2 separate regions of the Homo sapiens genome follow, and region 1 is linked to region 2. Evidence: fine-mapped expression QTL. Tissue or cell type: caudate. Region 2 holds a variant in brackets; the other region holds the start of a gene. All regions are shown on one strand. Distances are from middle to middle.

What was found.
Region 1: LRIG1 starts here. The variant in region 2 is fine-mapped to the expression of LRIG1 in caudate (GTEx, PIP 0.98).

The regions. Positions count from the first base shown.
Region 1 is chr3:66,493,500-66,508,653 of GRCh38, forward strand. LRIG1 (leucine rich repeats and immunoglobulin like domains 1) reads right to left here and starts at 7,523. Exons shown (of 19, transcript NM_015541.3): 1 at 6,691-7,523. The coding sequence starts at 6,908. RefSeq lists silencers at 2,206-2,500, 6,723-6,932, 6,953-7,032, 7,073-7,212, 7,233-7,892 and enhancers at 6,619-7,119, 7,120-7,620.
Region 2 is chr3:66,425,711-66,440,864 of GRCh38, forward strand. All of the region lies in intron 3 of LRIG1 (leucine rich repeats and immunoglobulin like domains 1), which reads right to left. Among named protein-coding and RNA genes, the nearest start is that of LRIG1, 68 kb to the right of the region's middle. RefSeq lists enhancers at 10,005-10,595, 10,596-11,185. The variant A/C (reference allele first, on the strand shown) is at 8,822.

The sequences.
Region 1 (15,154 bases), 68 kb after region 2:
ACCAAAAATCCATGGGAGAAGGCCGCTTCATACATATCACCAAAACTCACAGGAGAAGGCTGCCATCTTCCCATTCCAAAAGACTCCTTCACAGCAGAAAGGTAAACATTTCCCAGGAAAGCCTCTGTCACCAGCAATCTGGCTTGGAAGCTGGGTGTGGTAGCATGAGCCTTCTAGTCTCAGCTACTCAGGCAACTGAGATGGGAGGACTGCTTGAGCCCACGAGGCTGAGGCTGCAGTGAGTCTTGATTGCACCACTGCACTCCAGCGTGGGCAACAGAGTGAAACCCTGTCGAAAGAAAGAAAAGAAAGAAAGAAAGGAAAGAAAGAAAAAAAAGAGAGAGAGAGAGAAAGAGAAAGAAAGGAAGAAAGACGAAGGGAGGGAGGGAGGGAAAGAAGGAAAAAAAGAAAGAAGGGAGGAGAGAAAGAAAAAAGAAAAAGAAAACAGAGAAAGAAAGAAAGAAAAAGAAAAGAAAGAGAAAAAGAGAAAGAGGGAAGGGAAGGGAGTGGGGGAGGGAAGGGGAAGGGAAGAAGGAAGGAATCTGGCTTGGAGAGACTGGCTGTGAGACAGGATAATAAATTGGAGCTACTGAGGCCTTTAACCTTCAAATTGTGCTCCAGAATCATCATAAAGTAGATGGACCCAAGTTGAGGAACCTAGCTAAATATAGGCATCATCTAACTTTGTCCTCACAGCTTCTATAAGATAGAGCATTTTTCTGTCTTTTTAGACATGAAGAGGTTTGCCCAAAATCACACATGTAGCTGTAGACTGGAGGTGCCAGGGATGGACCACAGAATTAACTTTCAACCCCTTCACCGCCACTCCTTAATGACGAGTGTGAGTTGGGTGTGACCACCAGCGGCAAGAGCCCCTGCATATTTAACACAGTAAAGGTGAGGAAAGCTTTGTCCCTAGCCCATTCTCTCCCCCAGTCAATAACCCAAATGGAGACCAGGAGACAGCTGGGTAGCAAATGCCCATTTAGAAGATATAAAGAACTAAAGGCAGGAAATGAAAAGTATAAAACCCAGTGAAATGGAGAAACAGCTTAAAAAACTGAAGGACTTCTATGAACAGATTGAAGTTATAACTTGTGTTTCAAAAGACTATGCATAAAGTACTTAGGTAAAAACCATTGATAACAAATTATACAAAATATAAGAATATAAGAACATATAAAGCAAAAAGCCTTTGTATAAGAAAAGTTCACAAGCATACCCACCACCCCCTACAAAAAAGAGACACAAATTGCCGACTTTCAACTAGAAATTAGACCATCAATAAACTGCAAATTTTTTCTGCAATCTTTATTGATCCATTCATTTTGCTTAATAAGAATGGTCATGTATCAAGTATTTCAGCAAAAAACTTCTCAGTCCTAGTCATAATTGGACAATTAATTGGTCAGTCGGGACTGCTCTTCTAAACTGTGCAGCTATATCAAATTCTTTGAGCAAAACATAAATGCAGGTCCCAGAGGTAAACTATTATAAAAATGTTAACCACTGGTCTTCAAAGTGCTCTATTTCTTTCCAGAGGAGATAAGATCTGAGTTTCTTACCAATTTCCACACTTTAACTTGAAACAAAAGCACAAGATAACCACATAACTGACATACAAGAACTGAAGCCATGAGGTAGATAGAATGAACCCTAGTGGCTCAGTGTCATGCTTAAGTCATAAAAAATAACAGTAACGGTCCCTAAATTTCCCACAGGCTGGTAAACACTGGAGATTTTTAGATATTTGCCCTTCCCTGCCTGGGAATTTTTCCTCCACCCGTCCTCCCTCCTGTCTCAAGACAATGCCATCAGCCTTTGAAACTGCATCCATTGTAAACAGCTCTGAATATTAACACGGCCCAGAGTTCTGTTCGCTTTTAAAAGACCCCCAGGGTTTCAAATTGCAGTCACTGAGGAGGGGGAACGTACCCAGTGAGTAAATGTCACATAGCTCATTCAAAAGGAATTGAAAGTTAGGCTTGCTCGTGAAACTTAAAGTCCTTCTACCTATGGGGTAGGTCAGAGGAATCCCTTTTATGTTTTAAACAAACGAGGAAAAGAAGAAAGAAAGACTCTGATACAACCAACATCCTTTACTGCATATAACAACTTTCAATTCAATGAATCCCTCTTCTAGATTTCCCTCTCCTGTGCATGCCACTTTTTAAATAACTATAGGCTATTTTAAACAACCTCCACCCAGCCTTCCTATCTAACAGACCTTCAGGGCTTTAGCAGGTGCACAGCACTGGGCCAGGTGCATTGTTAAGTCACACAAAACCCCAGTGCTCTCTCCTGCATTCCTGTCCACCCTGAAAGAGAGGAGGCTGAAGACTTTGCACCAAGGAGACACCCCTGCAGAAGCGGGAGAGGCCCTTTCATTGTGATCATGGTGTCTGAGGGAGAGAAAGGTCAGCCAGAGGCCGTCCCAATGGACTCAGGGAAGCTGCAGGGAGAACCCAGGCAAAGTAATTAACACTGGAGGGAGGAAAGCTTTCAGCTAACGGTGCAGAGCTGGGGAGATGGGACATGAGGACATCCACTAGGAACCAGCTCTCATCACACTACACTTAATTTTTCTTCATCTTTCTGAAGATGGTTCCGAGAATTACTGCTGATAATATGTTCAAAAGTCCAAAGTCTGTAAAATCTAGTAACCAAATATAATTATGCAAAGAGACAATACACTACTTTTTAAAACAGTCCCTTGAAAAGCGGGGCAGGAACAGTTCTGACATGTCCTAAAGGCAAGAGGGACATTGTGTGCCAATACACAGTTAATTTACATGGGGCGCTGGGAATCTCTGGACACTTCCTACTTTAGCAGTACTCAAAGAATAGATATTACGGCCACAATTTCATATCAGCAAGACTTAAACAGTGTGCCTTTTTCTCACGACAACCAATATTATTTGCCAGAAATCTCACCTTACTCAAAAAAAGTTGTCAGAGAGCTATCAACAGACAAGTTATCCCCCAACAAGAGGGAAGACACTTGTTGCAAAAGAAAAGGACTCTGAGCTCAAGCTAAAGTTCCCTGAAACTCTAAGAGCACTTGCACCTTTCAGACTGTATTCTTGGCAATTAACCTGTGTTTAAAATGCTCCCTATTCCAAACAACCCAGGTTCTTCCCTGTCCCACAAATCGGAAGACTTTTGTTTCAAAGTCTGTTGAGTTTAAGTGATATGGAGAAGGAAATATTTCAGGACCATCCATACAACAATCTACTTTAAAAAAAAAACATGAATCTCAGTTTAGGTTCCAGAACAATTTGGTGATCTGCACTTTAAACTTAATTTGCATAAACAGGATGGAAAGTATTTTCCAAACCCTTAATTCACAACACCCTGCACACCTGGGCCTTCCAGCACAGCTGTAAAATTTGAAAGACAAAGGCCCTCTTTGCTTCCCAACCACAATGGCAACCACAGTTGGTGTTTATTTTCTAAGGTAATCATAAGTACCACTTCTTTGCCAAAACTGGCAAGGTTAGATTTAAGCTAACTGATCTGGTATTGCAAACACATAGTACAAAGAGATCAAAATCAATAAACTCATCTTAATGTGGCTTAGGATAACCACACTTGGTATACACTTTTGTGAATATCCTTGCTTTAGAATGCTCTGTCATCTTCACTCCACACTGAGAACAAAAATCAGGGTTTGTTCTTCCTCTAGGCCTGCCTTCCTAATCCTAATCCCAATCCCAATGGGCTACCATTCAGCTCTCAGGACATTTAAACTAGCAACATTTTGTGACTAAACACTGCTGAAATTTACGGCACAGGTAAGAGTCTAAGGTAAACTGTATTTAATACTTCTTAAATAGCTTCTGAAGCCATGCTCTCAAAAATAATTTCAAAGAAAGCAAATATCTGAGTTCTAAGAAGTTCAACTTCTTCTCAGGTTCTGGGAAGTTGGAATAAGGCTTGGCAGTGGCTTGGTGCTATTTATGAATGTGCTAGTTGGACCATGCCAATCTCACCTACGTAATGGGCTGGGAGACTTAAATTATGGCTTGACTACTACAACTGTAAGTTATTGTGCTGAAAAGTTATCCTCAGGCCCCAAAAATGAACCGATTATCATTATCCATTCTGTTTCTTCTATTCACACTGCATTTACATTCACTATTTAAAAGTTTTATTTTTCTTATATCAGGCCTAGAAGCAACTTCCACATCAGACGCACTGTTTACAAAAAAAAAAAAAAAAAAAAAAAAGGTCCCATAAAGCCACAGGTCCTCTGCTATCTCAAACCCACAGCCTGAAGTTGTTTGAACTAGCTGCAGTAAATCCAGTTCATGGGTTTATAAACTAGCTCAAAGCATTTTCTAGACACCGTGGGCTTAGAGCGTGTAAACTTGGTGAAACTACAAGATATTTCATTATATCATATACAGACACTTTCTCCCCTAAAGTCTTGCTGAATCTTAGCCAGGAATACAAACCATATAAATACTCTTATGGAAATTCCAGAATAAGACTCACGGAGACTAATGATTTAAATTCAGAAGTCTGAAGTCTAGAAAAAAAGAACACATTTGCTTGATTTGTCCTTAATCAGAAATAAGAAAACTTCACAAATATTTTTCAAAGGATAGCCATTTTGCACTGCATACTGTGTTGCTACATACTAACCAGAAATCATGCTGCTCATATCTTAAAATCGAATCAGTCAACACCATAATCAGTATACTAAAGTCTACTGATGCTCAAAATACCCACTTTGGTATTTCTCGATCATCAAATGTGTGAGTAAAAGAGAAGGACTTCAATTTTGAAGGTATTTATGCCATGTGAAATGTCACTCCTAGGCAACAGAAAGCCTAAAGAAATAACCAGTATGTTTTGCTCCAAAAATTAAAGGGCAAGGCAAAGTGGATCTTGTGACCATAGGAAAGTGCAAATAAGAGGACACCCTGCCCTCTCTGGGAAGTTACTTCTGTGGAACTAAGTGCTTTCCCCACAATGCCACTGACACATGGCATTGGGAGTCACTCTTCCAACAGGTGAACACTTAAGAAGTTAATCTGATTTTGCCCACATGATTCTATTTAAAAAAAAAAAAAAAAACTACCGTATGTAAGGGAAAAATCACAATACCCCAGACTAAATAAGAGACTACCTAAGGACAATACTGGGCTCTATCTCCCAGTACTTCACAAAAGCTCTGCCTCCACCCTACGACCACTGATTTTCACTAACTCAGTAAATTCCACAGAAGAAGTAGATATTGAAAACCTAACTGTAACTAAAGGGTTCCTGGTTGTCTTCAGAACTCTGTAGTACTTGTTCATGGAGCAGTGTCTCGGGCCAAGTTAAAGATTCGTGCCCCATTTTGAGAGGTACAGGATCTTTACATTTAAAAGGAATTAACTTTTCTTCCCTTCACGGTAGTCAGAACACAGGCCACATTTTCTTCGATCAAGCCACAGGTGCTGGTTACAACTTGTGACACCAGTTTTCTCTTTTTAAAACAGCCATAGTCATGCCTAAGGTTACTGCTGTGCCTTTCCTATGTTCTAGGAAAAATGTCCAATTATTCAACCGAAATGCGGACTATTTAAGCTAGGCCTTTTCTGGAAAGGTACTAATGGTTCTACAGAGATGCTAATTACCCATAACTGAACGGGATTTGACTCATGCACCAGATTTGTTAGAAGTAAAAGAAGACTATTCTATTCTACCATGTTTACACAGAAGTCTAATGCCTTTTTTTTCCTGTCAAATCTCCTGTAAGAAGTGTCCCACTAAGTCCTAATAAGCCCACATCCTGACAGCACAGAAAAGAACCTCTTTCGGGTGAAACAAACAGCTTAAATCAGCCAAGCCCCTGGCACCCTCTCCTGAAGCAGCACTTCTCCAAAACTCATTTGCACCATTTATGGAGGAGAGAGTCTTGAGGGTGGGCCCCACCCCACTGGATCATCAAGCCCAATGGGGCCCCAGGGAACACACAGGAAGGGTCTGGAACACAGTTCCGTAAAATGCCAAACAGGCGTAAAAGGACAAACTCCCAGCACTCACAGGTCGCCAGGAACTGTCAAAGCCCTCTAACTCAGGGGTCCTCGGGGGAAGACTGCCTTCTGCCCCGCACAGAGAGGCAAGTCAGGCCACCACGGTCTTCGGGGATCAGGAGACGGCTACACACACTATCAACTAATAAATAATGTAAACGAAAGACTGGACCCAACAGTCACCTTCATTCATTACCCACTGGAAGACCAAGGAGCTCAGACACCAAATAGTTGGATTACAGGAGAGGAAAAGGAAACGCACCCACATACCCCCACAGACTTCTTCACACTCTTCTCCAGACGTTTCCCACCCACCCACCCGCAAACACACTCAGCTCCAGACTCCCACTCACTCACCCCCAGATGGCCCGCACGACGCGTGCTGGCTAACCCCCAAATCTCTACGACCCACGCTCGCTCGTCTCCAGACCCCACGAGGCACGCTCTTCTTCTCCAGGCTCTCTCGCACGCCTACTCCCCCGGACCTCCACGCAGAATCTCCCTTCCGCCACTCCAACCTGACAGTCTTCCAACACGCACAAGCACGCACAACTCCACACACACAACCCAGTCCGCACCCCCTCCCTGAGTACGAACCCCCGCCGCTCCATCCCCAAGTGACAGAGCCCCGGGGCGCAGAGAGGGCGGAAAGGGCGGCACTCACAGGCTCCGCGTCCAGGAGGGCAGGTCCCCGGGCAACGCAGCCAGCCCGCGCCCACCGCAGTCCAGCGAGTCCCCAGCGCAAGTGCAGGCGGCCGCGCAGGGCGCCCGCGGGCCGGCCGCGGCGGTCACCGGCTCCAGCCGAAGCAAAAGCAGCCAGAGAAGGAGAAGGCAAGGCGAGCGGCGCGGGGCCCCGAGCCCTCCCCGGACCGGCCGCGCCATCTTGTCTGGAGCGCGCTGCGAACTCCGGGCGCGGGGACTGTGAGGACCCGAACGGCCGCAGACGCGGGCGGGCCCGCGGGGCGCTCCGCTCGGCTCTAGACTCCGCACCGGGGCATGGCCCCCGCCCCAAGTTCTCTCTGCGGCCGCGGCTCCGGCACTCAGCGTGCCCCCGGTGCCCGGGCCGCTCCGGAGCACCCGGCGGGGGCCGCAAACCCCGCGCCCATCCGGGCCGGCCGGCCCGCCCGCGCTAGCTGCGAACTCCGCCGATTCGGGCAAGGTGTACCCAGCCTGCGCTCTTCGTCCGCCCGGGGCACGCCGAGTGCCGCTACCGACACCGGCCGAGGGCAGTGCTGCCGCTGCGCCTGGAAGACAGGCGTTCAGCCCCGCAGCCCGAGCTCGGTGCCGGCAGGCATCTTCCTCTGGGCTCGGAGCGCAAAGCCGTAGACCTCGGGCTGGACGGCGCGGCCGGCCCCGCGCTGGGAGGCCCCAGTGCGCCTCGCTGTCCCCACGCCGCGGCCAGAGAGCGCGCGCGCGCGCGCAGCCTCGGGTTCCGCACGGCTCCTCCGCGCAGCAAGAGTCCCGCCGACCTCGCAGCCGAACAATCAGCCGCTTGCTGTTCGCCTCCCCGCGGCCCAGCCCCGGCCGGTCCCCCAAGCCCCGCCCCCGGCCGCTCGCCCGCACACACCCCCTAGGCTCCGCGCTCCGCGGCCGCCTGCTGGCCCACGTTGGATGCTTTGCAACAGCGCCCCGCCACGCCTCCCCGCCTGCTGCTCATTGGCTGCCGGAGTCCACCGTGGCCAGCCTCGAGGGCCATTGGAGCGCTCGCTGTGATCCCGCCCCTCCCGCTTCACCGGCTACCCCGCCCCCACACTCTTTTCCCACCCAAGGTGTGAAGGGCGGGAGACTGGGAGGAGAAAGGGAGGGACGGCCCCCGCCTCTTAAAGGAGACACGCAGGTTGTTGTTGGAGAACGGGAACGCGGGCTGGGGAAAGGAGGCGTGAAGATACGCCCTCTGCGTCAAGAAGGGGAGAGAAAGTTAAGAGGGTAAAACGCCCCCGTTTTGGGGCTGTCTGGCCCCAAGGCTTTTTACGTCCTCCTCAGGCTGCAAGCAGGACTGCAGATTAGAAGCAAACCCGCGTCCGTTTTCCAGGTTCCTTCCAAAAGCGAAGACACAGGTTTAAAACTTAACACATTTCTTCCTGACTGGGACATCCTTGGTTATTTCATTAGGCGTGGTCCCCTTCCTCCTCGAGCAGCCTGGAGCATCTGCTCCTGACTTGTTCTTCACGTCCTAAATCCAGCAATATGTCCTTGATTACTAAAATGAATGTGTGCTGCAGAAACCTAGTCTCAAAGGTGCACCCTCGGCCAGGAGTGGTGGCTCACGCCTGTAATCCCAGCAGTTTGGCAGGCCAAGGCGGGCGGATCACCTGAGGTCAGGAATTCGAGACCAGCCTGGCCAACATGGTAAAACCCCGTCTGTACTAAAAATGAAAAATAAAAAAATTAGCCAGGTGTGGTGGTGCACACCTGTAATACCAGCTACGGGAGGCTGGGACAGGAGAGCTGCTTGAACCCCGGAGGCGGAGGCTGCAATGAGCAGAGACTTGTCACTGAATTGTCACTGAATTCCAGCCTGGGTGACAGAGCGAAACTCCGTCTCAAAAAAAAAAAAAAGTGCACTCTCCTTCCCAGCTAGTGAGTTGAAGGGTACTTCTAGAAATGCTGCAGCCTTTGATAAAGGGGTTGCTTTGTTGTTGTCATTGGGTTTTTGTTTTAATCAGAGTCTTTTTAAGATAATTTTCAAGAAGCCATTGTGTATTCGTAAGAGACAGAGTTAAAGGAGAAATAATAGTTAACAAAGCTTCTAACTTTTGCTCTTAAAGATCAGACCATAGTAGTAGTGTGTTACGATAGTACGTGGTAACATTAAGCAGACATACACACATTGAGAAAAAAAGAAAAAGATTACCACTGTAACATATAGCTGCCCTCTGGGCGTTTTGGTTTGCTAGTGTCTCATATCCCTTCCCAAGAGTATGCAAATTACTAACATAACTGCGCACATTGTCAGGAAGATTAAGCAGGTCAAGTCTGTTGAAAAACATTTGCTCCAGAACATTAAATCTGAGTTGTGTTTTATGGAAGTGGGGTGGGGTGGGAGGTAAAGAGGAGAAGTTGAACCTTAGGGAAAAAAGGCAAAAAAAAAAAAAAAATTAAAGGGTTTATTCCATTTTCGACACAATCTAAGAGGTTTGCTTTAATTGAGATGCACTAAATGTGTTAAACTTTCCCTCAGCCATAAGATCACCTCTTTTCTTTAGCCAAAATGTGATCTTCCTATCCCTTCCTCCCCTTTTTCCTTCTTCCCCTTCTGAATTCATTGCGCCTCATTTTTTTCTTGTTTAATTTTGCATGATCTCAGCAGTGATGCCCAAAGCAGTGCTCAAATATGTGGGTAAATCAATTCAAATCTAATTCCCAAGAAATATTATCAGAAAAATGCTGCACCTGACCCATCCCACCCAGAGCTTTAACCAGCTTTTATGTTTCATATGTAATCCAAATAAACATACACCTTCCATCTGGACGAGAAGAAATATGTCCTTTTGTTCTATCCCTTTTGGTAAATATAATAATAATAAGCAGTGGGAATGGAATTAAAAAGACCCTAAATTTATGAAGTCCTCTCAGTCAGTGTTTAAGTTTTACACAAAGAACACAAAACAGTAATTTGATGCAGAATACCCACAGCCGTTTCCTGAAATGAAACTGTCAGATCCTCCCTGTCCCCACCCCACAATAAAACAGCATATGCAGCAAAAAATGAATTGAACTGATTGAACTACTTGAGATGCTGACCTAAAATTATCTTTCAGGTTTGTCTCATTTCTAGTACTATAAAAGTGGGTAATTCTTGTAAAATGTTTTTTCAAATGTGTATGGGTGTACTTGTGAGATGCCTTTTTGGAATCTTAGTTTTCTGGAGGATAGAATTTAAGAATCTGCAAGGTGAGGGAGTGCCCACAAATCTAAAGCATCCCTTGTGGTCTGGTTACCATGCAGCCAGAGAAAAGGATTCCAAAGCCGGGGCACACTTGGGGGGACAGGGCGCCTAAGCCTTGGCAGTTCCTCTCGTCTACAGCAAAGCATGAAGTCATGTCTGCTCCCCATACCATGTATGGAAGTTTGCCCACATACTAGCAACCTGCTTGTGATTGCAATGAGAGTGTGAACTTGGAGAGCAGTGATATCCAGCTCAGGGGGGAATTCATCTGCAGCCACCACCTAAGATGAAGGAGATCTCAACAACAACAACAGCAAATGTCTAAGGGAATCTATGTCTCTGCTCATAAAAGTGCAAGTCTTGGTCCATTCAGCACAGAGCAACAGTTGATTTGGGTGCTGTAGGTCCTTATTTTCCTCACACTGCAACTTTGATCTTTCTAAATGCTTATTCCTTAAATGAGTCATCCGGGGATTTTAGATTTTCCAGTTCATTTTCATCTACCCCAGGGATAGCATGGAATCAAACCCCAGTGAGAATCTCTGCAGGTCTCTCTTGACTCCAGAAGCCCTAGCAGTTAATCATCCTAAGTTAATCATGCTTGAGAGAGGAACCCAAAATCTAAATAGCCTGAAATCTATTGGGGAGAGAAGCAAATAACAAAATAACAAGAAAGAAGGTTAACCATAGGAATTTTTTTTTTTAACACAACTTCCTGGGGACTGAATTTGTGCCAGTTTGCTATAGTTCTAGGTGGTGGTCTTTAGTGGTTTTAAAGAATGCTGAGATTCAGAGGGGCTTTCTTAATGTTAGGTGAGATTTTACACTGTGTTCAATACATTAAAAAAGCACCAGGTCACCATTCAGGAGAGCTGGGTTCCAGCCAGGCCTTGTTATGGGTGAAACCTTTGACCAGTCATTTTCTGTCTTGGAGCCTCAGTTTTCTCAAATAGAAAACAAGGGGCTGGGCACGGTGGCTCACGCCTGTGATCCCAGCACTTTGGGAGGCCGAGGTGGGGGGATCACCTGAGATCAGGAGTTCAAGACCAGCCTGGCCAACATGGTGAAACCTCATCTCTACTAAAAATACAAAAATTAGCCGGGTATGGTGGCACACACCTATAGTCCCAGCTACTTGGGAGGCTAAGGCAGGAGAATCGCTTGAACCCGGGAGGCGGAGGTTGCAGTGAGTCGAGATCGCACCATTGCACTCCAGCCTGGGTGACAAGAGCAAAACTCCATCTCAAAAAAAATATATATATAAAAGAAAAATAGAAAACAAGGATAATGGTACTTGACCTGGGTGCTGAGTGAGTAAAGAAGGATCATTTTGATAAAGGACCAAAGGGGCATTATAAACTGTTTACATCTCATTGTTTTCAAGGTGTTATTGATTTGTTAACTCTGAAAAACTGAGAGCCCATATGTATAATGTAGATGGAAAATCTTAGCAGGTTGTTTCAGCAGGAAAGTTTCTTGTCCAGGAATGTGACAAAGGGTTAATAATTAGCTATGAAACCCCTGAAGACTTGCAGGGTGATGACAGCCCTGCTTTGAGCCTGTTTTCTATCTCTCTTCCAAGGAAAATAAAACTGTGTACTCATTAACTCCTTCGTCGCAATAATCTTGTCAAGGAGATGGATGGGTGGAGAAGGTAAGAGAGGAGGCTAATGAGTCTGGGAATAGAATATAAAAAGAGAAAGATTTTGAGATCTCCCCATCCCCCATTCCAACATTTGCCTTTGGTGGAGGTAGTTTTCTTGTGCAATCTCTGGCTATTGGAATATTGGTTAATGCCCAGACAGTGCCAAGCTGCAGCTGCTGCAGTTCCACAGCAAGAATGGTTGTTGCCTGCAGCTCAGCTGTGACCCTTCACAGGATCTGCCCTCCTCCACAGAGCACCATCGACAGGGGCCAAAAACCTTTAGAGTCCACTTTCTAACACAAACTAGAACCTTGACACTTGTCCTTGCCTTGTGAATGTGAAATGTTTACTGGTTCACTGAAAGGATGAAAAAAAATATGTCAAAGGTATGAGCATTTCATAATTCTGAGATTGAGATTCTGGAGTAATGGTCATTGTAGGAGGCAGTCCCTTACCTCTGACGGTGATGATGATGGGATGGACTAATTACATCATCACCAGAGACCGCACCTCTCACTCCCAATCTGCTGCCTTTGCAAATGTCACTCCGAGAAGTACATGAGGGCGAGTGCAGGGAGGATTCAAAGTTTATGCCTCACTGCCAACCACTCAGAACTAACACTGCAATGTATATAAAGAACAGCACATTGATCATAACATAATAATAATCTTATGAAGTCATATACCTTACATTTTTCAAAGCACTGTCACATCATAACAACAGCTATCATTTACGGAGCACTTTTTATATGTCTTTCATGTTGTTGAGTGCTTTATGTACTTTTTTCAGTGAGGTAGGAGCTAAGAAAAACGTTTAAGGCCACACAAGCTAATAAGTGACAGGGCCAAGATTCCAAACCAGTTCTGTGGACACCAAAGATCTATTTTGGGCTGGGCACGGTGGCTCAATTCCTGTAATCCCAGCACTTTGAAAGGCCAAGATGGGTGGATCACTTGAAGTCAGGAGTTCGAGACAAGCCTGACCAACATGGTGAAATCCCTTCTCTACTAAAAAGAAAAATATTAGCTGGGCATGGTGGTGCATGCCTGTAGTCCCAGCTACTCAGGAGTCTGAGGCAGGAGGATCACCTGAGCCCAGGAGGCAGAGGTTGCGGTGAGCCGAGATCGAGCCACTGCATTCCAGCCTGGGTGACAGAGCAAGACCCTGTCTCAAAAACAAAGAAACAAAAAACCCCAAAGATCTATTTTGACATTTGAGCCTCCTAAACTTTGAATATGAAAATTGTTATTGTTCCCACTTTACAGATGAGAAAGCTGAGGTTCAGTGATTGTCCCAAGGTCACGCGGCATCAGGAATAAATAGAATCTTAAATCACAAGTTTCATCACAACCACCAGCACACATATTTTATATTCAGTGAATGTCTTACGAAGTGTATCATGGAGCTTCTTTCTCAGGGATGCCATGAGAATGGATGTGATTTCTTTACTTTTTCATATTTACTAATAGATTTTCAAAGTTCCCTCTATGATTAATAAGTTAAAATTTTAAAGGATAAATATCTAGACTTTTCTCTCCCCCCATACCCAGCAGTACTTGTATAACAACAGTGGTTAACATTACTGATCACTTACTATGTGCTAGGCATTATTTCACATCATGGCTTAATTTCACTGAAGAATTCTATGAGATACCTTAGAGATTGTCATCTTACATATGAAGTTACTGAAACTCTGAAATCAATCCCCTTGCCCACATTATACCCTAATTAGGTGCTGAGCAGGAAGAGGCTCACAGCTAACCTACCCCAATCACACTCCCTCTCTTATCATTCTCACTTTTGATTATTTTTCCTGTTTATCTCTTCCTCCAGTCTAGTAGCTCAGTAAGTTAAAAGTAAGTTAAAAGACTGAGTCTAAATCCCTTCTTGGTATTCCTGTTGTCTAACACAATTCCAGGCACATGGTAGGCACAGAGACAATATTTGCTGAGTGAGTCCTGCCTGCCCTGCAAGGAGGGAGAATTATCAAGCCTCTTTCCTCCCCCATTTTATTTTATACATGCTTGCTATTCACATATGTGTGCTGACCACATCAATATTACCTGGAGCTTCTCAGAAATGTGAACCTTAAGGCTGGGCACAGTGGCTCATGCCTGTAATCCCAGCATTTTGGGAGGCCAAGGTGGGCGGATCACCTGAGGTCAGGAGTTCGAGACCAGCTTGGCCAACATGGTGAAACCCTGTCTGTACTAAAAATACAAAAATTAGCCGGGCATGGTGGCATGCGCCTGTAGTCCCATCTACTCGGGAGGCTGAGGCAGGAGAATCGCTTGAACCAGGGAGGCAGAGGTAGCAGTGAGCTGAGATCACACTATTACACTCCAGCCTTGGTGACAAAGTGAGATTCTGTCTCAAAAAAAAAAAAAAAAAGTAATTTCAAAAATAAAGACAAGCATGTGGCTGACATTATTGCACCTAAATTGAAGCGCATGCAAAACATCTGCTGCCCATGAGATTTTGGTAAAATCCTCTCGTGCCATTCAATTCTCTTTTCCTTCACCATGCATTCAGACTAATAAAAAGCATTTGCAAATTTTATAGCCTGTTATATTTGTTTCCAAAAGGACAGTTGGGTTTATGACACATTTCAAATTTATTATAAACCTACAGACAGACACATATTATATGCTTTTCACTGTCATTCTTATCCATGAGCTACATTCTTTAGATAATCATTTAAATATCCTTATTTCCCTGGGGGAGCTTGACACTCCTCTTGGATTTAGATGCTATAAATCAAAGAAAAGTCTTTGTCTTTTCCGCAACTCTTTCTTATTTGAAGTGCCTTGACTGGTTACTATTTGGAGAAGGCAGCTGTATAGAATAATTGTCTGCCGACGGCCACTAGCAGTTTCTCCCCTCAAGAGGCAAAGTCTATTTTCTCTCCCTCTTAAATCTGGATTGGCCTTGTGCCTCGCTCTGACTGATAGAATGCAGTGAGAGTGACGCTCTTACCAGTTCTGGGCCTGGCAGCTTTGTCTCTCACCCACTTCCTACCTGGAGCTGTCATGTAAGGAAGTCCAGGCTGCCCTCCTAGAAATAGAGGCCCTGGAGGAGAAGAGACCATGGAGAGAGAGAGGCAACGTGCAAGAAAACTGGGTGGCCCAGCCAACAGCCAGCATCATAACCCCAGACATGAGAGTGAACTCATTTTGGACCTTTTAGCACAGACCAGCTAAATGCAACTGCACAAATGAGCCTCGCCAACATCACATGAGCAGGGCTAAGCCATCCCCAAGGGTCTTTCCCAAATTCCTGACCCGCAAAATCATGACCAATAAAAAAAGCTCTTGTTTTAAGCCACTAAATTTTGGGGTGACTTGTTATGCAGCCATAGATAACTGAGATAACAAGTGTGGCTAAGTGAGCATGCAATAAAACGTGAGTGGATTTTGGGGGAGGAATAAAATCTAATCAAATAAACCCGTCATCAGGAGTGTCAAAAAAATTAGTGTTATCAGCTGACCTTCCTGACGTGTTTGTCAGGGCCCTTGATTGAACGCAACAGGCTAACTGGCTGATGCCATCGAACAAAACTTCTTAGATAATAAATATTCTGGTTCTTCAGCAGG
Region 2 (15,154 bases):
GTGTGTGGTGGCCAGGTCACGTGGCATTCGCCTCCATCCACAGTGTCAGTTTACCCCTTGGGCTGCCCTCTGGAGCGAGGAGAACTTAATACAGCAGAAGTCTATTAAACCAACACCTGTTAAAGGCTTCAAAAATAAAATCAGTCTTCAAAGGCGGAAAGCAGGCAAGATAAGCTCTCCCCAGTTGGCTACATTTTCAGAGCTGATGTTAAATTAGACAGTGAAACAGATGGAGGCATTTGAAACCAACATTTAAAACTTTTTCTCATAAGTGATTGTTCCACTACAGTTCTGTGAAAGCCTGGTTTACAAGGTATTCCCGTTAGTGGTGGAAAAGATCTCATGTCACAGATAACAGCCAGGAAGAAAGGGCAAGGAGATCAAAGGCAGTTGGGACAAGGTGGGTCAAGTGGGTAATTTCTGACCCCTGAAATTATGCACCTATTTTCTACACCAGGGGCCAGCAAACTTATTCTACATTGGGCCAGATGGTAAATTTTTAGGCTTTGTGGGTCATACTGTCTCTGTCATGACCACTCAGTTCTGCTGTTATAATGTAAAAGCAGCCAGACAATATGTAAATGAATGAGTGTGGCTATGTTCCAATAAAACTTTATTTACAAAAACAAGCAGTGGGCCAGGATTGGGACCACTGTCTGTGGTGTGCTGACCCTGTCAACCCTATGGCAACCAGTTTGTGTTTCTTGGGGTGCAGAGACCCAGACTCTAATTCTTGCTGTCATGCAATTTTGGAACCATGTATAAATCACTCTTTCTCTACCTCGTTTAACCACCTGCAAAATAAGGAAATACCTCTTAACTGCAGAGAGAAAACTTTCCCATTGTCCCTCCAGTGCCCATGTCAGACATCACTAATCACAGTCTTTTCTGCCAATGTCTTTTCTACCTCTTCAGAAAGTGAAATGGAACATAAGTCTCTCTACCACTGTTATGTTCCTCAAGAGATCAACCAGGTTCCTTACTGGAGCCAGTGAAGATAGATGGGCAAACAGGGTTACTTTACAGAAGACAGAAATCCACACTGTATATCCTATATCCTTCCTCGTTTCAGTTCCGCCAATTAGTCTGAAACATACTGAAGCTGGCCAGCTCTCCATCCCTAAGATCTAAGAAGCTGTGCCCTTCCGCCCTTCCAGACAATTACAGTGATTCACAAAGTCCACAGTCAACTATCTGAGTGTGGACTCTCACCGAAATGGCAAATCTACCACAGTTTTACTTCAAGATCAAATCTTAACACGTCTTACTTAATGAATAAGCGAAATCCACATAATAGCTCTTTGCTTCGCCTGAACCTCCGGTTAGAAAATAAGTTTCACATAATCTAGCCCTAGACTGGGGGGAAAAAAAATCTAACACCCCCGGCCCCCATTACCCCAACAAAGTGATCCTGGCAGACAGGTTTCATCAAACTCCACACCCTGCAGCACTCTGCCCATCATGGTGCTGCACTGGAATTCTTACCAAGGCTCTGCATCACACACTCACTGTCACCACCCACATACAGCACGCACTCAAAATAATCAAAATGAATGAAGGCGTGCACACATTCACATATGCCTTCTGAGGCTACAGTGTATCTTAACAACATATCACACCTGGAATCCACACAATGTGAGACTATCTGAGACCCTCATATTACTGACGGAAGATGAAACTTAGTACAGGGCACACCAGCCCTGATGCCTACCTAAGGAGGTGTACTTTATGACTGCAAATGCCAAAAAACATTAACCATTTCAAAAACACACATGAAGGTGATGATTTCTCCTTGTCAGAAGACACAGGCTGGGCACAGTGACTCTGGCCTGTAATCCCAACACTTTGGGAGCCAACAGTAGAAGGACTGCTTGCGGCCAGGAGTTCGAGACCAGCCTGGGCAACACAGTGAGACCCTCATCTCTTAAAAAAATTTTTTTTAAAATTGCAGCACTATCAGACAGGCCATATGGCCAAATGCTGGCAGTTGTTTTGTTTGTAAACATTTTTATTGAAATATAAAGGATTTTTACAAAATGTAGAGAAAAATTTCCGCACCCAGAAGCCTCCCTCCTCCTGTCTCCTGGTTGTTATTCCTCCCAAAGGAAACCTCTAATTTCTACCACCCACAATTAATTCTGCCTATTTCTGTGCTGTACAGACACAAAACTGTTCTGTACATACCCTTTTTTATTTGGCTACTTCCACTCAACATTGTTTATGAGATCCATCTGGGTTGCTGCATTAGCAGTAGTTAATTCTTTTCTATCACTGTACGATATTTCTATTGACAGAACATACAGCAATTTATTTTTTCTTTCTATTGTTGACGGACATTGAGTTATTTCCAATTCAGGCTATTGCAAAAATCACAGCTATGAACACGGACTTGTCTTCTGCACTTGCTTTCTGGTGCATGTCTGCATGCATTTTTGGCAGGCGTGCAATGTCCAGGCATGGAATTGCTACTCAGGTCATTGAGCTTGCATATGTCTGGCCTTAGCAGACACTGGTAGTTTTCTTTTAAATCAAGTCCCCCAGGGTTGAAATGAATCTGAAAACCATTAGCTCCAAGTGCCCTGTTTCATGCTGCTTCATTTGACCACATTCTCAGATGCCACTGCCCTCATATGTCCCCTTTCTGACCCCTCCCCAAAAAACACATTAGGAATATAGCCTGGGGCCACCGAACATGGCCAAGCTCAATCTAATCTTCTTCAGGTGTCCAGTAGAATTTTTTAAAATAAGTGAGGGCCTAATGATCACAAAAAAAAAAGAATAATTCTAAGTCTCAAAATTGGCAAGAAATAATGTTGATGCTAAAGTCCACAGCTTACGATAATGCACTTGTGCCAGGACCAATGCCCATACAGAACTTGAAAATTAAGATGAGACATTTTTCAAGAACAAGTGAATGCGGAAGAGCTTTCCTAATCCAACTTGAATAAAAGTCTCCCTTCTCAGAATGACAGTTGAAACCATTTCCCTCTAGCCTGCTTTACATCCATCTTCTTAAAAATTAAAATCAAAATCATTTGTTCTATTGCAGAAATTGATCATTTACTCAAAGAACTGCTGTCTCGTAAGAAACAGCCCAGCCTGGGTTATTTGCTGGACAGGAAATGAGAATCAGAATAAGCAGGTCTCTCTCTCTTGCTTGTTCCCTCTCTCTTCCCCTGCTGCTGGTGAATCACCAGTTCCCTGGGGAATTTTGGCAGATTCTCAGCCTGGCTGCAGATGACGTTCCAGATCTGTTTATTCAGGTGGAGACTGGATAAAAAACAAGAGCAGCCCAGTGGCGGGATAAACAGCCTCCGCCAGGCAGGGTCAACCTCTCCAAAGGCAGGACTGGGCTGTGTCAACCAACCTCCCAACCCGTTCACTTCCTTTAGGGTCACCCTCCCCTTTGGGTCTTCAACAAACAGCTTCCATTAACTCCTTGCAAAGACGACCCAATGTCCCATCCCCATGAGACTACCTAACCCCAGGGACCTTGCTACAGCAGATCCCATTTGGTTCTCCCACCCATCAACTTACACCCATTGAACTGAAAGCCCCGGATCCCTGAAACGAAAAAATCTAGGTACGATCAACAGCTGGCCACCACTGTTCTGTGAAGTCTAGAGTGACCCAACTCATGAATGACCCAGGACCCAATCCAAACTATCAGAATGTTCTGCATTTAAGATGCACAAATAAACAAGAGCAGCAGCAAAACTCCTAAGGAAATACACATTGTTGAGTAAAAGATGCCCATCTGAAAAGACTACCAATTGTATGATTCCAAATGTATGACATTCTGAGAAAGGCAAAACTATGGAGACAGTAACAATATTTAACTGCCAGAGGCTGGGTAGAGAGAGATGAGCAGGTTCAGCACAGGAGATTTTTAGGTCAGTGAAGCTATTCTGTATGACACTGTAATGGTGGGCACATGTGATTATACATTTGTCAGAACCAAGACTGAACTCTAATGTAAACTATAAACTTTAGTAATAATGGATCGATATTGACTCATCAGTTGTAACAAATGTACCACACTAATGCAAGATGTTAACAATAGGGGAAACAGGGTGGGTGTGTGTGTGTGTGTGTGTGTGAGGGGGAGAGAGAAGAGATGGCGGGGGCATATGGGAACTCTCCGTACTTTCCACTCCATTTCTGTAAACTTACAACTGCTATAAAAGTCCATTAATTAAAAACAAAACAAAACAAAACCTCCTAAAGTATTAAGTAGTCCTGCAGTCTCGACTGGGTAGAATATAAACCGCACACCGGCTAGGAATTTTTAGTCTATCGTATTGACTGCTATAGCCTTAGCCCCCAGAATAACGCTTAGAACTTAAAAGGTACTCAATCAATATTTGTTGAATAAACAAACAAATTACAACTTTAGTTCAATGTCTTACATTCACCACAACAAACCTGAACCAAGGAACATTACTCAGGAAAAACAAAACAAAACAACAACAACAACAACAAAAAAAAAACACTGAGGCAGGACCAACCATCCAATTAAAAACTTTTAAAAAGAAAAAAATTTAAGACACAACGTGGAGTTAACTTTTTTAAAAAAGGTAGGGAAGCTGACAGACCTATTTAAAAGCAAATGTCGAATACGATGGATTTTCGATTTTCAAATAGCACGGGGTGGGGGTTACTTACGCATTTCCCACATTCAATTGAACCCCAAACACTGGCCCTCACTGGCTTGCAATGTTGAGACAATTATGCTTATCCAAGGCTGGCCAACAATCTCTCCCTCACTCACTTCTAGCCACAGCTCGGCCCTGCCTGAGGTCCCCATCCACACGCCTCCCCTGGGAGTTCCACGTGGACACTGCTGACCCGAGGAAGCTGTACAAGCCACATATGGATCACATTCCCAGGGAGAAAGGCTATGCCATCCTAACATGGGCAGTGACTTCTAAGGGGCTTGAGGAGTTAGTTCCATGTCCACACGGAGGTCAGCTGTCTTGGCATCTGGGCATGGCAAAGCAGTACCAGGTTGGGCTAAGAGATGAAAAACCAGGCTCAAGTTGGGCCAGAGATGGACAATGAGCCACTTCCACCAGAATTCCCAGCCACATATGCCCACCTCTGGGTCAGAAGAGCCAAACGTATTTATCGCTTTTGCTCAGGGCCAACATAGACACTTGCTTCTCTCTCAGGGCTGTGTTTTCCCCCAAATGTATCAATACATCCCTATTTTCTTCCCCCTTTGTTTTCCTTTCCCTGGTGACCTGCTACCCCACACCCCAGCACACTGATGGTGTTCCCTCCACCACACCGAGACCCCGCCACAAGCTCTCAGCCCTCGTAGAGCACAGGCCCCACCCTGAAAGTTGGCAGAGCACCGGGCTATCAAGCTGTGTCATGTGGAGCCAGCAAGCCCGGCACAACCGTGGATCCCGGGTACGGCACAGCTGAACTGAACCCCTCTGATTTCCCTTTGAGAAGAAGGCTAAACATACTTCATTACAATTGTCAGGGCACATGTGTCCCTGCCTGTTCAGCTCTGCCCCTTGAGGGAAGGAGGTAAGAAAACCAGGACACAGAATGAGAGACATGGATTCAACCAGACTCCAGGGGCTGAGCAACTGTTTCTGGACAAGAAAAGCAGAAAAGGTGAGATGGCAACGATCAAGAATGAGGTGATGAGAGTGTCCCTTAAGGCCAGGGACTAACCCCAGAAATTTTAACCAAGAAGCGTCCGCACTACCCACGTTGGAGGGTATCAGGAGGCTGCCATGCATGGTTTTCTTCCAAAGAAGGCTCCGCCAACTAGGGTGAGGTGGGAAGTCCCGAGCCCAGGGGTGTGAAATGATGGAGATACTGCACTTCACACAGCAAGGACCTCCTCTGCCCAAGTTCCACAGGGACTGGTCAGCAACTGGGGGAGGGGGTCACCCAGGAGTCCAAGACCAATGAGCTCTGACATGAGCTATTGTGGTTTCTGTTCCTCTGACCTCACCAACTAGGACCTGAAAAAATGGAACCACTGTTGAGAAACATGCTGACCTCACGCCAAATTCCCAAAGGGAGCAGAATGAACCTCCTTCTCACAGCCACCCTTCCATCTCAGCCTTGGGCAAAGCGGTCTGCAGCACTCACACACCTGGAGACTGTCCATGCCACCATGCTAAACCAAAAGCAGGGCACACAGCCCACCAATTCACATGACTGTCCCTCTCTAGAAGATACACGTAGAAAAAAAGATAGGGAATACAGGATGTTGTTCTCACAGTACGATGATAATGGAATCCCCACCCCATTTTGCATACTGCCTGTCAATTATGTGACATTAAATTTATATTTACAAAGCAGTTAATGAAAACGTAGACAATGAACTTTGGGACCTAATCCTTAAGTGCAGAGCAGACTAAGAAGTGTGGTGGAGAGCTGTGTAGGGTTGGTACAGCCCAGGGTGGCCTGAGCATTCCACCACCAGTCCACCAGGCACAAAGGAGGGTTTTCCACACAGAACCTCCTCCTGAACCCCCTGCCCCCGACACTCTCATGGCACAAAAGCCTGCTCCAGGTGGTGCAAACTTCAAAGGGCCTTTGTAGCCGGAGTCTGGAATGGAGCCCTGGTGCTTCTGCGGCCTCCAGGAAGTGGTTCCAATGCTGCACAGGGCCATGGATGTCCAGGGAGCTTGCCCTTGATGCTTAGCTATGGAGGAGTCACACTGCATTTTCTTTCCAGTAGAAGGGGTGGCAGGAGTAGCCATAATGGCAGGAACAGTGGGAACAAATCTAACATTTTGTTAGTGCTTACCAGTAGCTAGGCGCTGGCTTCGCTCTTAACATCTTCCCTCATTTAATCTTCATGACAACCCCAGAGGCGGCCACTATTACCGTCCCCATTTTACAGATGGGGATGCTAAGGCACGGAAAGGTCAACTCACTTGCTGAAGGTTACACAGCAGTAAGCAGTGCAGTTGGGACTGGAGCCCGGAACAGGAATCCATATCCCACACTCCTAGTCAGGATGTGGAACTGCCTCACCAGGGAAGCGGGCAGAAGAAACCTGAGGAAGACAGCTTCTCTTGATAGCACCCCATACCTCCCACCTCTTCTCGGCATCCACCAGGGACAGGGATAACCCTACACTGGGGCCACACCATGTGACTGGAGCAGAGGCAGGACCTGACTCTGCAGATACAGAGGGAACAAGAAGGGGAATGTCCTGTCGCAAGCCACTGTTCATCCCCAGTCCTGCCAGGGGCCCACACCCACACGTAGGCTTCCAGGCCCTCAGCCCACAGCATGTCAACACAGCATTGCCAGAGGGCCCAGCCAGACCACCTCTATTTATATTTAGGATGACTGGAGTGGTCAGCGGCCATGTCCCCATCCTAAACAGGTGGGTGAGAGTGGCTCTTATTTCCTCAGGCAGTAAGTATAAAGGCACAGAACTGAGCACTCTCCAGGGAACAAAAGAAACTTGTTCGCTCATTGCTTACCACCACGCCAGAGAAGCCACCACCTACTCCAGAATCAGAGAGGTTAAGACCCTGGTATGAAGTCACCCAGCTAACCAAGATGCAAGCATAGGTATCCTCTGACTCCAGGCTGTGCCGCTCTCTGGAGTGACAGTGGCACAGTAAGCCAGACCAGACAGCCTGCGGCTATGAAGACAGAGAGGGGACTGTGGGTGCTGCAGCGCTAAAGCTCCCTCTGAGGTTACACATGGGCCCCTCACCTCTACTGGCCACTGGCACATTCCCTGAGATTCACATGCCAGCTTCCTGACAGCTCTGCAGTTCCAGGCAAAGGAGGAAGCTGTTTCAGCACTTGGCTGCAGCCTCTAAGACAAGATCCTCTCCTCCTCTGGGGAGGGATACCACTGATGTGCCTTTAAAAATAAAACCAGGCCTGCTTCCTGCCCCAACTGAAAGACTTTGATCTCCCAATCATACGATTTACAATATCTCTTACCACGCAATTTCTCAAGCCTTCAGCATATGACCTGACAGTGCTCCGGGAGGGTTAAGGATGGGTATGGGTGGGATTGAGGAGTTGGCCCTTTAACGCAGCCCTTCCTCACCCACCCCAAAAATGATTTGTTACAACACCAAAGTGGCACTGTCTGCAGCACCCCTTCTCTGTACCCCAGAACCATCTCAACCCGTGCCTTGTCCATGCTGGGGTCCTATGAGAAGCAATTCTTGCTGTTTCTTTTGTGGAACCACAAGCTTCAAGTTTCTTCCCTATTTCAGGCTTTTAAAAACATGTCATCATGAACTTACATGCAAAACATAAAACTACAGATCTTTTAAGAGAAAACACAAGAGAAAATCTTTGGGATCTACAGGTAAAATTCTTAGACCTGACGCTAAAAGCACAATCCATAAAAGGAAAACTTAACACTTATTAGGCTTTATCACAATTAAAAATGTTTGTTCAGTGAAAGACTCTGCTAAGATGAAAAGACAAGCTACAGATTGAGAGAAAGTATTTACAAATCACATATCTAACAAAGAACTGGTATCCAGAATATATATCCAGACTATACAAACATCTCACAAAACTCAAGAGCAAAACAACAACAAAAAACAACCAAAAAATCCAATTAGAAAATGGGCAAAAGGCATGAATGGACATTTTACCAAAAAGAATCTACAGGTGGCAAACAAGCAAATGAAAAGATGCTTAACATCATTGGTCATCATGCAAATAAAAATGAAAACCATAATGAGCTATCACTGCACACCTATCAGAATGGCTGAAATTAAAAAAATACAACACCACGGTCAGGCGCGGTAGCTCACACCTGTAATCCCAGTACTTTGGGAGGCTGAGGCGGGTGGATCATTTG[A/C]GGTCAGGAGTTCAAGACCAGCCTGACCAACATGGCGAAACCCTGTCTCTACTAAAAATACAAAAATTAGCCAGGCCTGGTGGCGTAAGCCTGCAATCCCAGCTTCTGGGGAGGCTGAGGCATAAGAATCACTTGAACCCAGGAGGCAGAGGTTGCAGTGAGCAGAAATCATGCCACTGCACTCCAGCCTGAGCAACAGAGCGAGACTCTGTCTCAAAAAAATTAAAAAAAAAAAAAAAAAAACACACCACCAAATGCTGGCCATAATGTGGAGAAACGGAATTGCCTATACACTGCCGGTAGAAATGTCAAATGGTATGGCCATTCTGGAAGAGTCTGACGGTTTCTTAAAAAAACTAAACATGCAACTCCCATATGACCTGTCAATTGCACTCCTGGGCATTTATCCCAGAGAAGTGAAAATTTATGTTCACACACACAAAAGAAACCCAAACACAAATGTTCATAGCAGTATTTTTTAAAAGCAGCCCCAAACTGGAAACATTCTAGATGTCCTTCATCGGGTGAATGGTTAAAGTACGGCACATCCATATTATGGAATACAACTCTGTGATTAAAAAGGAATGGAACGACACATACAATAACCTAGATGAACCTCCAGGGAATTACGCTGAGTGAAAAAAGCCAATCCCAAAAGGTTATCCATACTTTATTATTCCATTATATAAAACTCTAAATGAAAAAACTACAAATTTGGAGAACACATTAGAAGTCAACCAGGGGGGGCTAGGCATGGTGGGTCAAGCCTGTAATCCCAGCACTTTGGGAGGCCGAGGCAGGCAGATCACTTGAGGTCAGGAGTTTGAGACCAGCCTTCCCAACAGGGTGAAACCCCATCTCTACTAAAAACAAAAAACAAAAAACAAAAATACAAGAATTAGCCAGGTGTGGTGGTGCATACCTGTAATCCCAGGTATTTGGGAGGCTGAGGCAGAAGAATCACGTAAACCTGGAAGACTGAGGTTGCAGTGAGCCAAGGTCACACCACTGCACTCTAGCCTGGATGGCAGAGCAAGACTCTGTCTCAAAAAGAAAACAAAAGACAACCAAGGGTGTGAGGGCAAGAAGTAAATGACTGTGGCCATAAAGGGGAGAGATCCTTGCAATGATACAAATATTCTGCATTCTGACTGCATCGATGTCAATATCCTGGTTATGAAAAGCTGTACAAGATGTCACCATTGGGAGAAACTGGGTTTAAGGGTACGTGAGGGATCTCCCCATATTACTTTTTTTTTTTTTACAACTGCATGTGAATCAACAATTATCCCTAAGTATCATTAAAACAACAATACAAAAGTGTCATGGCATTCACGGTGGAATCAGATGGAAAGTCTGGGGGAGTTCCCAGTGGAATCAGCCTTCCTGCTACTTTACTAGTCTCCAGCCATCCTTCAAACCAGCAGAAACTTACACAGTATGACTGAGGTCTCAGAGCCAAGCACCAACTACCACTGGGCTCTGTGTGATTTCTGAAATGTAGGGATATGCATGAACTGTTTAATTACTTCCCATCATTTAGGAAAGGGCTGAGGGCTGGGACTCCTAGAGACAAGGGTGTTGCTGATAAAGCTGAGGACAGCTAGCGTGGCCCTTGCCTGGCATCAGGGGTTGTCATCCAGCCCTGTGTCTTCTTCCAGCACTACTTGGCCAAGGAAGACGTGCCAGACGTGCATGCCCAGAAAGTGGCAGACGCAGGTTGCCAGACACCACACTCCCAAAGCATCATCCTTCGTATACTGGCCTTGGGAGGTGTTCCATGGAAAGGGTGCTGGGTGCAGGCAAGCTCAGGAAGGGGCATTTCCTCCCCCGCCTCTTGCAGACTCCCTCAGCAGGTCAGCAAAGAAAAGCGGCTTAGGAGAGATGATAACAACACCTTTCACTCGGCTTGCTTTGGCATTTGCTAAACTTACATGACCACAAAATCCTTTTCATGAAACGACCATTAACATCCCACAGAACAAGTATTCCAGGTGGCTCACTACTCACTATCTGTGGGAAACACCACGTCTCTCCCCCTCATTTGAGGTCAAAAGACATACAACGCAGAGCCCGGGGGTCTGGTGCCAGCCTCCAAATGAAGCCAAACTGTGACAAGCCTGCACAGGAAGAACTGAAGAGGAGGGGGGAATATATGCCTGTGGTAGCGAAGTCTAAACTTCATGGATGTGCATTTAGAGACAGGGAAGCAGCACTCTCTACTGCCAGGGGAACGTGAGGAGTGGATTTTATCATTCTCTAGGTCAGCACCTCTCATGCTCCCAAAATCTCCCTTCCTACCTCTGAAAGAAAATGAAAACATAATAGAGCTATGATGAAATGATCTTAGGAAGATCTCTGCTTGTCCTTGGAGACTCAAAGGGAACATCAAGCACTAAAGGCTCTGAAATGTTCTGCAGGAAAGAAAGGTGCTCACCTTCAACTCTGGGTTTTCTGAACTTTCTGAACACAGAGCACTCTTTTCCCCCTCAATGCCATCTACTGGCACCTCTAGAATCCAGGCACTCCTTAATGTCATCTTTTACGCAGCCTGCTGCACCTCCCTCATTTTCCTTCCGTCTCTGCAGTGGGGAACGGGTGGCATCTCCCAGCATGGGCTGGACGCCTGCAGGGATCTGCAGTGACTCTCCACCTTCGCTTCACAGAAAGCCTTTCCCAAACCACCTGCTGGCCCCTCAAACAAGCGAGCAGAGACTGGGAGAGCCCTTTTTTGACACATCTGTGGTAAGGTAAGAGCAATTTCTCATCTAAGCAAACAGAGGCTTGAAAAGCTGCTGCTAGAACATGGCAGAACCAGGACTCAAACCCCAATAATGAGCCCTGGGGGCAAGCCCTGTCCACCTCTGGGCCAGGCGGCCTCTCACATGGCAGTTTCCACTAATACTTTTTCTCCCTTGACACCCTGCCTGCCTCTTCAGTAAATCCAGGCAAGCAAGACTTATCCCCTGGCTGGAGAGCCACGCCCTCCAGCACCCCTCAGCAGGCCACTTCTACTATAACGTGCCCAAGCCTGTCTCTCCACCTTGAATAAGTATCTAAAACAACCTAGTGTCTGCCCCATACCCCACAATCACTTATCCTTAAGATGACCCTTCCACTTGGTCCCTCAGAGTCATTCATCCATACATGGATGGGATGCCTGCTACATGCAGCTGCTGCAAGGAAAGACGGACGTGGCTACTGTGCCATCAGCCCCTCACCCCAGCCCCAGAGGAGACAGAGGGATGTCATAGGTGCAGTGGCAGAGGGGAACACAACATCATGGGGGGAGGAGGTCAGAAGAGGGGCGGCTATTCCAGATCAAGGTAGCAAAATGAAGCAGGTACAGGATCCAGAGACACACCCAGTGTGGGCTTTCCTTACGCACAATTTAGAGGTGGGAGAACAGGAAGAAATGGAGCCAGGGCCAACTCTGAAAGAGCTGGGACTTTGTCCCATAGAGGATGGGAAGCCACGAAGGGACCCTTCATTCATGTCTTCGTCAAATATTGATGAAGGTACTTCATTGGGTGGCTGGTGTGGAGTGGGGAGGGATGAGGGCTGCCTCAGAGCCACATCTGGATGCTTGGGAGCCAAGGCCTTGGGGAACCCCTGTAGAGATGAGATGCAGGGCCCAGATTTGGCACCGGACCCGAAGGGCCTGCTAGGGTGCTACCCCCTGTCCCACTCCACGCAGACTCTGCAACATAGAGCACACAGCTCAGCCGGCCTTCTCCACAGAATTCATAAACATGTGAGCCTGCCAGGAACCTGGGGCCCCAGAACTACAGGGTCACCCACAACAGCAGTTCTCAACTAGGGATGTGAGTCTGTTCCAAAGAACATACAGCCCAGGCCTCCAGTAGGGAAGCAGCCATGTGTGTTTTTAACCCTGGTTGAGTATGGTTGATACTGAACCAGCCCCTCTCCTTACAGGTGAGGGAACAGAAGTCACAAAGAGAAGTGTTTTGTGAAACGTCCTATAATGGATCCATAATGTCAGAGTAGGGACCACAAGCCAAGTGCCCTGACACTCGTTCCTCTGAACACTACTGGTGCTAACAAGGGGGAAAAGGCCCTGTACACTCCAGGAAGGGATGTTTCCTCCCAGTTCCCAAGAGTTGGAATGAGCCTTGGGTTACGTCCCGACAAGAGGACGGTGAGAGGGCTTCCCCTGCAGCAGAGATACCACTGCAGAAATTCCAGCACCCAACTGGAGGTGAGCAAAAATGGACCAATGCCCTCTACTGAAATGCCCACAAAGGGATGGCGCTGTGAGAGGCCACCTGGTCCTCACCACTATGCCAACAACTCACGCCTTTTGGCTTTCTCTTCCTAGAGGTGACCCATGAGGCCACCAAGGCAGGGAATGCACATCTCTGCCATATCACCATTTCCTTTGATGACGTATTGAATCTCTCAGGGACTACAGCTCTTTTCCAGGGAATGGGGGAAAGTGAAGACAGGCACTGGGCTCTTACTTGGAACCAAATAGTTGCTATAGCATCACCAAATCAGGGTTCTCGTTAACACACACTAGAGGAGAGGAAGACAGAGCAGGGGCCAGCCTAGCCCGTGAGGAAAGCCAGGTGGTGAAAGGGTTTATCACAGCTGTCTGCAAGGCCATGGGGAAGGGGAGCCCCTGGAAGAACTGCGCCAAGGCCTCCCCGGGCCCAGCCCACGAAGCCCATGCTGGCTTTCTCAACACGCCAGCTCTCATTCCGATTGAGAAGAACCCAACAATTACGAGGCAGAAAAACTTCACTATGCATGCTGATAACCACTGTTTTTCCCCTTATAAAAAGTACATTTGATTTGCAGAAAAGTCACATTCTAAAAAGTCCAAGGGGAATTTTTTTTCTCATTTCCAAAGTTCTACTCTTTGCAACTTAACCTAGCATCCAATTCCAAACACAACCTTCACAAAATCCCATTATACAATTATCCAACTCAATTTTAGCACCAGAACTTTGCTATATTACAATAAAGCTTTTGGGTGAGATCCTTCAGTTTCTATATCATCTATTTACTTTTTTTTTTTTTTAAAAAGAGCCAAGTCTTACTTTTGAAGTTATAAAGAAAAAGGTGTTTAAGGAGCTTAGAATAAGTCAGTTTTGCCTATTGTTTTACTATAAAGAGAGTTTTTTCCACCATCATGGTGGGACATTTCTGACATATAGGTAGAATGCAAATGACAGTTGGGTGGGCTATCAGAAGAAAGAATGACCCAGATAAGGGGCAAATCCACAGTTGAATTCTGTGATCTCCAAATAAGGTGGGCAGGTCTAATCAGACCAAACACCCTCACCCGCGCACCACCAAAGCAACTTCCTCATCACGCTGTGGCTAACTGCACAGTATCTTCAAATTAAATCAACAGTGAAAAGAGGTAAACTAAAACCTCTACTAGGGATCCCCAGAGTCCTAAGTACTAAAATGAAGGCCAGCCTCAATATTTATTTCCCCTCCACCTGGTGAGAAAGAAAGAGGGGGAAAAAAAGGAGTGGAGGGAGGTGGGGGAGCCTGGGTATTTTAAATGATAGTTATGAGAGGGGAGGAGACAAGAGGAGGAACAATGCCTTTCAGTTGCAATTATCCAGCTGTGGCTTATTAAAGCTTTTGGCTGCACACTGAAATGACCTGGAGAGCTTTTTTAAAAAACCACCACAACGCCTGGGCCCAACACTCACCCCCTCTGCTCCCCAGCCCACTAACTCGAGGTTTTGATTTAACTGCCCTGAGACGTAGACATCTAGATTTTTTTAAGCTCCCTAGGTCATTCTACTATGAGTGAGAGCCACCGCTTAAACATTTGCCTAGCACTTTGCTGCTTGCTGCACCTACCCCAGGTAGAGAAACAGAAGATGACAAGAGAGGAGAGAAAATAAACTCTGCTGCTGTCCTCAACAGCTCCCGTAAGAGGAATGAACAGATACATATACGAGGGTTTTCTGTAAGCTTCAACTGGTTTATAGGAGGGTGAGCCATGATGGATATCTGCAAGTAAGATCCATTTTTATGGGATGTAAATAGACCCCTCTCCAGTCTCCAATACCAGGCGGCCTCCAGGGTTCAGTGTAGACAGCAGCAATGCCCCTCAGAGCACAGCAGCAAAAGCAGGCTTGCCTTGCCCACAACCCCAAAGGTGCTCAGTACAAAGCTGTCAGAGATAGCAAGAGTGTCTAACACTCAGTGCACGTTCAGTATATACCAGACACTATACTGAGGACACATACTGTTTAGTTAATCCTAACCACCACCTTATCAGCAAATATCATTTTATGAGTGAGAAAACTGAGGCCTGAGAGAACCTGCCCAGGTGACATAGCAAAG